4 separate regions of the Homo sapiens genome follow, and all the other regions are reported to be linked to region 3. Evidence: microRNA targets listed by miRTarBase, many of them from high-throughput screens and not tested one by one. Region 3 holds a microRNA gene; each other region holds the end of a gene's coding sequence.

What was found. The annotated mature microRNA hsa-miR-4768-3p reads CCAGGAGAUCCAGAGAGAAU and lies in region 3 at 1,268-1,287, shown strand. An mRNA with a match to its seed (bases 2 to 7 or 8) in the 3' UTR can be bound and repressed. Matches are read on the target gene's strand: a 7mer-m8 pairs with bases 2 to 8, a 7mer-A1 pairs with bases 2 to 7 and ends in A, and an 8mer does both.
Region 1: miRTarBase lists TFDP2 as a target of hsa-miR-4768-3p. The part of its 3' UTR that is shown has no 7-base or 8-base seed match.
Region 2: miRTarBase lists ZNF805 as a target of hsa-miR-4768-3p. Seed matches in the 3' UTR shown: 7mer-m8 at 83-89.
Region 4: the mRNA of SVOP is a reported target of hsa-miR-4768-3p. Seed matches in the 3' UTR shown: 7mer-m8 at 1,718-1,724, 7mer-A1 at 1,619-1,625 and 7mer-m8 at 599-605.

Annotation. Positions count from the first base shown.
Region 1 is chr3:141,949,853-141,953,012 of GRCh38, reverse strand. TFDP2 (transcription factor Dp-2) reads left to right here. Exons shown (of 13, transcript NM_001178139.2): 12 at 1-102; 13 at 317-3,160. The coding sequence ends at 500. Among named protein-coding and RNA genes, the nearest start is that of ATP1B3, 75 kb to the right of the region's middle.
Region 2 is chr19:57,254,219-57,257,378 of GRCh38, reverse strand. It overlaps ZNF805 (zinc finger protein 805), which reads right to left. Exons shown (of 4, transcript NM_001023563.4): 4 at 1-3,160. The coding sequence ends at 2,676. Among named protein-coding and RNA genes, the nearest start is that of ZNF805, 15 kb to the right of the region's middle.
Region 3 is chrX:17,424,660-17,427,819 of GRCh38, forward strand. It overlaps MIR4768 (microRNA 4768), which reads left to right and starts at 1,222; the gene lies at 1,222-1,295. The region is part of intron 1 of NHS (NHS actin remodeling regulator); the gene reads left to right.
Region 4 is chr12:108,909,879-108,913,038 of GRCh38, forward strand. It overlaps SVOP (SV2 related protein), which reads right to left. Exons shown (of 16, transcript NM_018711.5): 16 at 1-2,863. The coding sequence ends at 2,657. Among named protein-coding and RNA genes, the nearest start is that of DAO, 31 kb to the left of the region's middle.

The sequences.
Region 1 (3,160 bases), not on the chromosome of region 3:
CTCCACAGGACCTTCTTGGTTAAATCAGGGACTACTTCTGAACTCTACCCAATCAGTTTCAAATTTAGACCTGACCACTGGTGCCACCTTACCCCAGTCAAGGTACGTATTTTTTTCAGGGTTAGAAAGGCAAACCCCAGAGCCCTGACTGTCTGTGTAGGGGTGAGCCGGGGTCATGTTACTGCCAGCACAGGTCCTGCTGAGCAGGTTTGTGGCAGATCTCACCAATGGCACCTCCTTCCTGTTTTTATTCCTATGTTTTACAAAACTGTTTATACCACATTAATGAGCCTGTGTGTTTTTAATTGTTTGCTAGTGTAAACCAAGGGTTATGCTTGGATGCAGAAGTGGCCTTAGCAACTGGGCAGTTCCTGGCCCCAAACAGTCACCAGTCCAGCAGTGCGGCCTCTCACTGCTCCGAGTCCCGAGGCGAGACCCCCTGTTCGTTCAATGATGAAGATGAGGAAGATGATGAGGAGGATTCCTCCTCCCCAGAATAAAGACAAGAGAAAGCCTACGTTTCAATATGTGATGCTCATGTGTGTTTGTAGTGTGAGCTCTTGTTTTTGAAATGATTGCTTCAGTCTTTGCCTTTGTTTGCACTGTGTGTTCAGTGAAAACTAGAGAAACACAATAAGCAAATCACATGAAGGCTGAGATGATTGAGATGAAAGTTAACATAGTGTGAATGAAAGTCTGGCCAACAGAGCAGTAGATGATATAACAAAGAAAGCATGCTTTCTGAGGAGATAGTGGGGATAATCCCTGAAGAGTTGGCAGTGTGAGTGCAACTCATTTATCTTCTGTGAGGTGGGATTTTTGTGTTCCTCACACCCATGTAATTATTCTTAGAATTGAGATTGCTACACGGAGCAGTCCTTGACGATCGTGTTTCTGACGTTTCTCTTCCTTGCCTGGACTGCCTTTGACAAGGCAGAAATGAACATGAAAAGTCCCCAGGAGAGGGGAGCTGTGTAGTGAGGGATACTGAGGGCAGTCCTGTGGCTGAGGGGCACAGATTGAACTGCTGAACTAGTTGGAGGTCTAGATGAGGTGCTTTACGCATCAGCTGCCTTAGACAGCTTCTAGAAAGGAGCGAGCGCTACTTCTTAAGTACTTAAGTGACATTTAGATAATTTATAGTAAAACTGAAATTATTATTAGCCAATGCATTGGTGCATAGAATTTACTAGGGCTACTTCTGGAAGCCAAAATAGAATAGCATTTCCATGTGCATTAAATACTTTGCCAGCACTGCCTTTGCCAGCATCCTAAATCTGGAGTTTTACAAAGAAGGAAACTGTATCTTTAGGTTAATCAAAGCTATGCATTTCATATAGCTTTTTCATTTAAAACAAGACAAAGAAACAAATTCCTATGACCAAATTGCTTGCCTACAGTTCCCTGCAGTAATTGTATGATCTCACCCAGTGTGCAATTTGTGAAAATGAACCAAATGTCATTACTTTTGTCTTAAAGAAAAGTCTATTTCAAGAATATGAACAGCAGTGTTTCCTTGTACATGTCACCTTTTTTCACATTTTCATTAATCAGAATGACCTTATTGAGCCTACTCCTGGGGTCAATTGCATTTCAAACTAATCCAATATTTAGTGTTTCACAGAAACACTAGAAAACGTTGAACACTCCTACTGCCTGGATATATGGTAGTGCAGTTATGTTGTTTATGGCTCAAGATGTCATTAGAAATACTGCAGTGGTGTATTCACAGCTGCTCCTTCTCTGAATGAAAGAGTGTAGGGACACCTGCCACCATGGCCAGACCCTGACTGAATTTCACATTAAGGCTTTGGAAAGGAGCAAATAATAATGGGAGAATTAACTCCAAAACTTTGACCTGAATCATGTGGATTTGTCCCAAGATTATGCTAGATGCACCAAGCATGGCCCAAATTGGTTCTTTTTTAAATCCCATGGGGGAAGTGCAGGCTCCTTCCTGTGGTGCCTCTTTATAGCCTCACCACCATGCTAACACTGAGCATGGTGAGGAGGAGGAAGCTTTGGCTAGCTAAACATGTTTAATAAGGCCATAAAAACTGAGAAAGAAAAACATTCAACTTTAGCTGAAGCTCCTTTGATACAAAAGTTTCATTCTGTCAGAAATAAGCCATAGTACAGACTCAGAGATAGAGGCAGTTTCTAGAGAACTCGGTCTTATCGTGGGTTCTGGAGCACACCTCTCAGACCAGTCAGGAACACTGGGGAGGTGACAGCAGGTCCCCAGGGGCCTGCAGGGAATCTTTCAGCTGCACGGATTGGGATTTCCCTCCAAACCAAACTGTCCTTTAAGGGGCAGCCTCCTCTTTTACTAACTCCACCCTTTCTCATCTCTGGGACCCAGCAGGGACCTGGAGAGGCCAACAGCCACTGCTACCTTTGTAGTCTTCAAAATATTGAACTGCAGGTCCCAAGATGCATTTCAGGATTTAAGACAGGTGCACTAATGATAACCATTCCTTCACCAAGTAGCAACATTCTTGCCAGAGTTCTTGGGAAACCTGTTTTTTTCTCTACTCTCCATCTCTGCTGCTCTCATGCTTTAAATTGATAAAATATGGGCTCAAAAAAAGAAAGCCGCCAAAGACTCTTATCCTTATTGGTGCCCCATCATTGGCCACCCCAGCCATAGGTGTGTGCTGTTGGTGGGAAATGGTCTCCTTCCTCAGCGTTGTGTTTGGGTTACTGGTGAGGCCAGCTCACAGAGTGACATCATGGTCACCAGTACATGTCGCTGGAGTAAAATCTTGCCTTTAGAAACTAGGTTGAGCTGTTCAGAAAGGTCAATTCTCTTCTGTATTCCCCCTCAACATTTATCTGGGTCTAAAGCTCAGCACTGAGTCACAATTTCACACAAGATCAAAGTGAGGCAGTGTTAGGAAACCATGGGCTGGGTGCAGTGCCTCTCGCCTGTAATCGTAGCACTTTGGGAGGCCGAGGCGGGCACATTGCTTGAGCTCAGGAGTTCAAGACCAGCCTGGGCAACATGACAAAACCCTGTCTCTACAAAAATACAAAAATTAGCTGGGTGTGGTGGGGCATGCCTGTAGTCCTGGCTACTCAAGAGGCTGAGGTGGGAGGATTGCTTGAGCGCAGGAGGCGGAGGTTGTAGAGCCAAGATCACACCACTGCACTCCAGCCT
Region 2 (3,160 bases), not on the chromosome of region 3:
AATTCCACAATTATAGCTCAGGACTTCAACATCCTTCTCTTGGCAATTGATAGAAATACTAGACAGAAAATCAGCAAGGATACAGGAGACCTAAATAACACCACCAACTAACAGGATCATACAAACTTTTACAGAAACTCCACCAAATGACCGAGAACACACATTCTTTTCAAGCAGCTATGTAAAACAAGACAGCCTATATCCTGGGTCATAAGGAAAAAAAGTCAACAAATTTCAACAGTAACATCAAATGCAAAACAAATTAGAAATCAATAACAAATAGCAGGGAATACTCCAAACACTATTAAACAATATACTTCTAAATAATTCCTGGGTTAGAGAAGATGTCTCAAAAGGAATCAGGCAATCTTAGAACTGAGTAAGATAATCAAAAGCATATTAAGACTTGTGGGATGAAACTAACAGCAGTGTAAGAAAAATGTATAGAACTTAAAGCTTATATTAAAAAAGAAAAAAAGCCTCAAATCAATAACCTAAACATCCACGTCAGGAAACCACTGAGTCAAATACAACCAGAGCAAGTAGGAGAAAGGATACAATACACATCAGAGCAGATATCAGTGAAATTAAGAACAGAGACTGGAGAAAAATCAGTGATATAAAGTGCTATTTCTTTGAAATGATCAATGAAATTGACATATGTCTACAAAGACTGACAATAATAAGTGATACATTTCCAATATCAAGAATACAACAAGGAACATAAGTACAGATCCTGCTGCCATCAAGAGGATAAAAGGAAATATTTCAAAGAATGCTACAAATTAGAACATTTACATAAAATGAACACTTCCTTAAGAAAATCTATAAAAATTCATCCAATATGAAATACTCTGAATAGTTCTATACCTATTAAATAAAATAAATACATAATTAAAAAGCATTCAAAAGGAAAATCTCCAGGTCCCACTTCTTCACTGGAGAAAGCTACCAAACATTAAAGGAACAAATAACACCAATTCTACACATGATCTTCCAAAAAAACAGAAGAGAATTCCTTCCAATTCATGTTAGGAGGTTAGTTATCATCTAGACATCAAAACCAAACAGTAACAGTTGAAGAAAGAAAACTACAGATTATCACTCATGAAATCAGAGGAAAGCTTCCTCAACAAAATACTAGCAAATGAAATACTGTAGCATAGTACACAAACAAAATTATACTCCATGATCAAGTAGGGCTTATCACAAAGATGTGAGGCTGGTTCAATACTTGAAACTCAATCAAGGTAACACATCATATCAACTGACTATAGAAGTAACATCACATAATTAAATCAATTGGTGGAGAAAAAGCATATGACAAAATTCAACACTTATTAATAATAACCAAAAAAATCCCAGCAAATTAGGAATAGAGGGAAACTTTCTAAACTCGATAGAGAAACTCTTTGGAAGCAACTTTCAACATCATAATAATGAGAAACTGAACATTTCCCCCTAATATCAGGAACAAGGCATGGATAACTTGTCACTATTCGTATTCAACATCACACTGGAAATCCTACCTAGTACAATAACATGAGAAAAGCAAATAAAAGGTATACAGATGGGAAGCAAGAAATAAAACTGTCCCAAATTGCAAATGACATTTCTATATTTAAAATCCTAAGGATTCTCCCAAAAGAAATGGCAAGAAATAATGAGTTTAGGAAGGTTGCAAGACAGCAAAATAAGATTGAAAAAATAATGTTTCTGTATACTAGCCAACATCATGTGAATATTGAAACTTTAAATATCAATGCCATTTACAATCACTCAAAAAACTATGCAGCTATAATTCTTATTTTAAATGTGCAGGAGTTATACTGTGTAAACTATAAAACAGTAATGAAATATATCAAAGAAAATTTAAATAATGAAAAGATAGGCTATGTTCATGAATTGGAAGACTAAGATGCCAATTTCCAACACATTGATCTATAGATTTAACTCAATTTCTATCAAAATCCAAGCAAGAATATTTGAAAAACAGAAAAACCAATCCTAAAGTGTATATGGAAAGTCAAACTAGGAATGCTAAATGAATTTTAAATAAAAATAGTAAGAAAAAAGAAATCACATTACCTAATTTTGAGATTTACCATACAGCTATAGCAATCAAGTAAACCAACAGATGGGAATCAAGAAAAATTCTCAGTGTTAGTGTTTAAAACCCATTAAAAAAGAATTTTTTTAAAAAATCAAAGACCTAAACAGTATTAAGTGGTACAATAAAATGTGCGCATTCATGTTTCTTTTAATCCTTAAATATAAAAGTATTTCATAACTCAAGGCTTCATTATTTCTCATAAAAACAATGCTTCTTAAGAAGAGACAATGTTGTAGAACAAAGACATTGAGTAAGTTTCCAGACCTTCCCTTACTAACTTTCCTGACACAGGACAGAAATGTACATACAAGACAACAGTATAAAAGCAGTGTCTGCATTTCATTTTCTTTTCTATGTCACCTCTTTCTGTTTATAAAAATTCCTGAGATAACATTGCACTGTAAACTAATGAGAAAGATGGAGCTAAAGGTTTTCCCAAGTGCGTAATAACCACTGGGTGTTTTTCCAGGATGAATTCGGATGGAGAATAAGGCTCTAAGCTGCGTGATTTTCTAATATGACTCCTTAGGTGACAAATGACATTTGGCAACAGAAGGTTTTCTCACAGTGAAGACACTTGTGGGGTTTCTCTTTGGTATGTACGATCAGATGCCATGTAAGATGCTTCCTCTTGCAAAAGATTTTCCTCAGTGGTGACATTCAAAAAGTTTTTCCCCAATAAAAGTTCTTGGATGTTGACTGAGGTCTGCCCACTTGTAAAAGGTCTTCCCACATCTGTTACACTGATAGGATTTCTCCCAGTATGCATCCTTTGATGCTGAGTGAGGGACGAGCTGCGACTGAAGGCCTTTCCACATTCACTGCACTCATACGGCTTCTCTCCAGTGTGGATGATAGAGTGTCGAATGAGGTTTGTGCTCCAGCAAAATGTTTTCCCACACTCGATGCATTCATAGGGCTTCTCTCCACTATGAATCCGCTGGTGCCTTGTGAGGCCTGACCTGCGGTTGAAGGCCTTTCCACACTCCATGCACTCATAGGGCTTCTCTCCAGTGTGGATGCTGAAGTGGCGAATGAGGTCTGCCC
Region 3 (3,160 bases):
ATCATTTGTTAGTTTGCTTGTTATCTTAAAAAATTCTATAAAATTCTTTTGAGAAGTTTCTCTGCTCATTGATCTTGAAAATCTCCTTGCTTTAGAGAATGGATGTGCTCCTCATATGCTAAGGATAAACCAGATTTTGGTAAATCAGGTTATCTTAGGGGTCCCAGGTGAGTTTGCCATTTTAACGATGCTTAGAGTGAATCCTTGTATAAGGGAAAGTATCTTGTATATTCTGTATCCTTTAGGAACTCACGTCTGTTGACTTTATCAGATGTTGGGGTGGTGGTGAGGCTAAAGACCAATAGGCGACATATGGCAGGATCTTCCCTCCAAGTGACCCTCTGGAAAGGGCTATACTTACTTAATTTTGGTGGAGCTCATCATAGGGTCAGGAAACCAGGGAGAAAGCTGAGCAACTGGTATTTATAGATCTTTCTCTTTAAATCAGGTTTGCTCATGATTTGTCTGGTCTTTATTCTTCTCCATGTCTGAAACTGAGTTCCTTGGATTCCCTTCTCTTCAAAGCCCTCTTGGCAACCTTCTGAGGAATGGCAGAGTTCATTCTGATCCACGTCCGGTGAGCGTAGCTCAACCGTGATGGAGCTTGACCTGTCAAATTCACAGAAAAATGTCCGTTACATATTCCAGCTGTTCCTTAAACATGCTCCCTAAGAGCTAGTTCCATTTGTTAGCTGTCAGAACGATGTGGAGGAATTGCTCCAGACCCTTGGATGTCATCAACCACTTTTGTTTATACACCAGTTATTTTCTCTATTAGCAAATCAATGTTTGGCAAAAAGAAAGCACAGGCTAAGAACTTTTCCTGATGAGTTGCTGCCCCAGCCTTGGAACTCTTCTCAGCCAAAAAAAAAAAAAAAAAAAAAAAAAAAAAAAAAAAAAAAAAAAAAAAAAGAAAGAAAGAAAGAAAGAAAGAAATTGAGGAGGAATTCAGTTTTACATGTTTTCCTTCCTGCTTACATGAACAGAGGAGGCCTACCTGAAGCTGAATCCAAGCACTGCCTTTGACGTTGGTAAAGATGGGGCTCTGAGCTCACATATCACCTTGGAAACTGGATCCTGTTACTGCTGGGAAAGGAATGCTTGGTTGCCAAAAGCATTAAGATAGGGAATGTGGATTCCACCTCTCAGTGCTCCTGCCTTGGATCAATTAGGTAGGATACTACCCAGAGATACAGACATGATGGACCAAGTAACTTCTCCAAACTTTGATTCTCTCTGGATCCCATGGATATGGGAACTGTGATGTCCAGGAGATCCAGAGAGAATCAGAGTTTCAGTGAGTGAAACCTAGAGTGTGTGCTGCTAGGATTTTCCTCATAAACCTGGGTGTTTTATTCTTGTGGGCCAGAAAGTTATTTCATTCCTAAACCCGTGATGTAGACTTCTCAGAAATTCCAGTGGTGTGGAGGATCCAGCTTCTATCAGCTCACAAGAGCTGATTGCACATATCTCTCCCCAACTGCTGTTCAGTGGCATCAAGTTGGTAGCTTGAAATCTGCCATGATGAGAGTATTTACACTATAGAAATTGGCAAATATGGCAAATAAGGGTCCCCACCACCCATGCTTGTGAAACATCTTCCAGCACACCAAGGAAATTATCCTAACACGTAACATCACTTATGGGGGCTGTTTAGCTTCAGGGGAGGAAATCCCCTTTGCTCTGATCTCATTGTGTGTACCTGCTTTGCATAGGCAGACTACCCCTTGTTCTCTCATCTATTAAACTCGACCTGAGAGAGAGCTTCATGAGATGGGTTGTGTGACAGGAGATCACTAGGGTAATGAGTCTGTTCCTTTCGCTGCTCAGCTATATGACAGGTTATTTTACCTCTCTAGGCCTCAGCTTCCTCTTCACTATAATAAAAGTAATTTAGATCATTAAATAATTGCTAAGTTTCCTTGTAGCTTCGACATTCTGCAATTTGATGAGTGCTTGGCTGCTGGAAAATGTCATGTGTTTCAAAGGCTTGGGGCACATGCACATCATTCACAGTGACCAGCTGAGCTCTCTCATTTTCTTTCTGGATCTTGGACTCCCAGTAATTCTACTTTTATCTGGACTTCTATCTTCAGCATGAATGAGCAGGGTGCCTCTAAGTGAGAAGCATAATTGATTAGTTCCTTCCATCTGGGGGTGTCAAAGCACTTTCAAGTCAGTAGTCAGTATCCATCATGGTTGCTCTGCAGGGAAGACTGCCTGAGAGTGCCTGTTTTGCAAGGGACATATCACAGTGGTGGACCAAGGACCCAGAATTATTGACTTGTCTTTTAATCAGAAAAGGGGCTACTTCCTGGTCTTAAAGAAGTTCCAGCTTTGAGATTAATCTGCTGTCTATAACCCCAGATCACTTGGCATGCTCGGCCTGGCTGACCTGCTGACAGAACTTGATATATTTCCCATCTCTCTGACATGGAGATAAACCTGAATAGGATTTTGCTAGTTCAGAGGATTTGGGGATACATGTTTAGGTAAAGTTTTCCTATAAAATTCCTTAAAAGAGGTGTGGTGTGGGTTTTTGTTGGGAATTGAGGCTACACTTAATGGAATGTGGAAGAGACCAAATCCACCTTTATGGGGTGCCTGGATGGAAAAGGTGTACTGATAGGAAGTTGGGACTGACCACAGACTTGGGCTGCTTTGTGATTTTGCTTACAGTCTTGCCAAGACCTAGCATCTGCCAAAATACGTGTCTCTGGGCCCTCTCTACCGAAATGTACACATTGACATGCACCAACTCATGCCGCTGTTGTTATGATTGTGTTTATGAAGCCATTTACTCTTGAATCAAGAACCTGAGTGACTTGCTGAGTGTTTGTAGGTTTATTGTCCACTCTGCCAGCTGACTGGGCTGTGTGTGTTCAATGGCTGAAGCCATGATTCCCACAGCTGAAGGTTTGGTCCATTGAGTCTGCCACCATAAAGCACAAGCTATGTGAAGGGCTGGAAAAGAAATAAATTCTTCTGGGATTAACTCCAAAGCAGAAGTACAGTTCTGTCTTGCACAGATAATAGAGGCTGGGTTCAAACTTCTTGGGGTCAGACTGCCAGCTGTGACCCACATTGGAGGTCTACCATCTTTTCTTGTTGGAATACTTCCTAAGAATATATTTTTTAAAAAATCAAGCACCCCTTGTGT
Region 4 (3,160 bases), not on the chromosome of region 3:
TTTGTGATAGCTCTTGTATCATTTGATAATATTGATTTTTTTGAAAAAGGCAGGCTATTTACAAGGCAAAGAGTTTTTGTTTTGTTTTGTTTTGTTTTTGAGATGGAGTCTTGCTCTGTCGCCCAGGCTGGAGTGCAGTGGCGCGATCTCGGCTCACTGCAAGCTCTGCCTCCTGGGTTCACGCCATTCTCCGGCCTCAGCCTCCTGAGTAGCTGGGACTACAGGCACCCGCCACCACACCTGGCTAATTTTTTTTTGTATTTTTAGTAGAGACGGGGTTTCACCATGTTAGCCAGGATGGTCTCGATCTCCTGACCTTGTGATCCGCCCGCCTCGGCCTCCAAAAGTGCTGGGATTATAGGCATGAGCCACCATACCCAGCAGGAGTTTTTAACTTTCACTTTCTCAAGTAGAGAAGGCCCTCAACTGTAAACCCCTTTACCCTAGTCTCTGGGAAATATTCCTGCCCACCAAGCACTCTATCCCCCCCAGCCCCCAGCTCCACTGGGTTATTCTAGGGTGAGGGAGCGGACATGATCATCCAGTAGCGTCTGACCAGCCGGAAGGCAAAAGAGACAAGCAAAAGTTCTGTGTTACCCAGGAGAGCTCAGCTGTCCAGAAATAATTAGAGCTACAGCCACACGTGGTTCAAGGAAATGTGGTTGTCAGAGAGAGACAGAGATCTGCCAAGCCATCTCCTCTTCAACTGCCTGGGCGGAGGGGGCTGCAGCCCACATTTTAGAGACACAGTATTGTTTGCAGTTGATTTAGAACTTGAGCTGGAAGAAGTCCCCCATCATGACCTGCACACCATTAGAAGAAAGTGTTGTCTCCAACAAGCTCAGCCACAATGTTGGCTGCCAACGGTATGTCTTTCCCCACTCATTGGAAAGGAGATTATCACACTAAAGCATTGAGATGAATTCCGATGAACAAAGGTAGTCAGACCGTTAGGCTGGACTGTCACTAGGACATGATGACAATGAATAAACTTAGGCTCTTGCAATGTCCATCACTGACATGTTTTAATAAGAGTTGAACGCACAAATTGGCTTCCTTGCAATGTTTACTTCAAGCAGTAGGTCTGTCTGCTCTGGCCTTTGATGGGATCTGCCAGCTTCCTCCCTCCTTGTCTATGTCCCCTGCCTTCACCATGGGAAAAAAGGCTCCAGTAAACCAAATCCCAGAAGTGATGTTGCCTGCGGAGACCAACTCAAAACCAACTGGCCTCCCACTGCTTCCTTTGAAAACATATACATTTCACACACCTGAGTCCTCCCACCCCTCTCCACTCCACGGCAGGCTCCATGAATGGAACTCCAGGGGCTGCCTTTGTGTAATGATCAAGACGTCCCTGGACAGAGGAGCAGCTTCGCATCAGGGAATCCTGGTCCCCTGATCCCCATGGGATGAGATGGTGGGTGTAGCATCCTTCTGGTTTCTCTGCCCATTCAGCTGTCTACCCATGCACAAAACCCAAAGCCCTGGATTTTGGATTTTGTACCTGCAAACCTGAGTAAACTTTTTCCCCTCAAGAGTCATCATTCAGGCCGGGTGCAGTGGCTCCCACCTGTAATCTCAGCACTGTGGGAGGCCGAGGCGGGTGGATCACTTGAGGTCAGGAGTTCGAGACCAGCCTGGCCAACATGGTGAAACCCTGTCTCTACTAAAAAGTACAGGTGGGCACCTGTAATCCCAGCTACTCGGGAGGCTGAGACAGGAGAATTGCTTGAACCCGGGAGGCAGAGTTGCAGTGAGCCGAGATCACGCTACTGCACTCCAGCCTGGGCGACAGATCAAGACTCCGTCTCAAAAAACAATAAAAGTCACCATTCAGCCTGACCAAGGAGGGGGCCAGGAAAGAAGTCGGAACCGTGGCCTTCGCTGCTTCAGAAGGGGAGGCCCGTGCTCTGACTTCAGCTTGATTCACTTTGGCCTCAGTCCTCAGTTCCCAGGGGGTAACGGCGTTCTGAGGTTGTCACCTGGTGCAAGACCAGCTGTCCCCAGGGACACATCTGGATCTCTTGGTGCCAACAACGGCAACTCCAGAGGGGGCTGGGTGGGGGCATGTGGCTCCAGTTTGAATGCACCATGTCCATCTGCCAGAGAATCCACTGGTCAGGCTCTAGGGAGGCAAACCGGGGGGCCCCTGCCAGGAAATAGCTGCTCAGACCACACCTAGATCGCCTGCAATTTCAAAGAAGAAAGCCTGGGGCTGTGAGTGTGGGAGAAACCTACTGAACAGGTCCGGTGGGTGGACAGCAGGTGTCACATGGGCCTGAGCCTGGACGGTATCTACAGAGAGATATTTTGGTTGTTCACTGAGGGTTTGGCCGGGTGACTCTGGGTGGTGTCTGATTGGTTGCTGGCATTACCAGACCCTCCTAATATGGGTAGTCTTCCCATGTAGATCCACAGGTTATGAACAAAGCTTTCACCACATATACAGAGAACCCCCTAGAGCAAACATCTCCCCATCCCTGGGTGGACCTCAATGAAGATGAGCAAACTGAGTCAAGACACAAAACCCTGTTGGTCCAGGTCATACTCTTGGGTGAGTTCTTGATGTCGGCAGTGACAATCAGTGCCCCAGTTGGGGCCTGCCAGCCCCCCAAGCTCTGCAGCCTCAAAGACCAGCTCAGTCCCCCATCGGTCACTATTCCTGAGAGCCAGAGTTCGACCTGGTAACACCTGCACCGTGCATTCCTCGGCCGACCATCTCCTGGCCCCACTCCCGGTGGCTGGACTCCTGCAGTCCTCGGCCTTTGGTCTCAATGGGCAAAAAGCAGGAGGCCAGGGCAGCCAGGAGGCAGCAGCCACTGTAAACTGCCAGAGTCAGGTACACAGAGGATTCCAGCATCACCTAGGGGAAGGAGACACGGGTCGGTGAAAGCATCCCTTCTGAAGCACAGACATCGCCAACCATCAAATAGTATTAGTAACATCAGGCCCTCTCGTGATATCTGCTTGCTAAAAAGGATCTGGTGATTCCCTCCTCTCCCCCTTTGTCCCTCTCTCTCCTTGTGACACGCCTGCCCCTCCTTTGCCTTCCTCCATGAGTAAAAGCTTCCTGAGGCCTCACCAGAAGCCAAGCAGATGCTGGTGCCATGCTTGTACAGCCTGCAGAATCGTGAGTCAAATAAATCTCTTCTTTATAAAT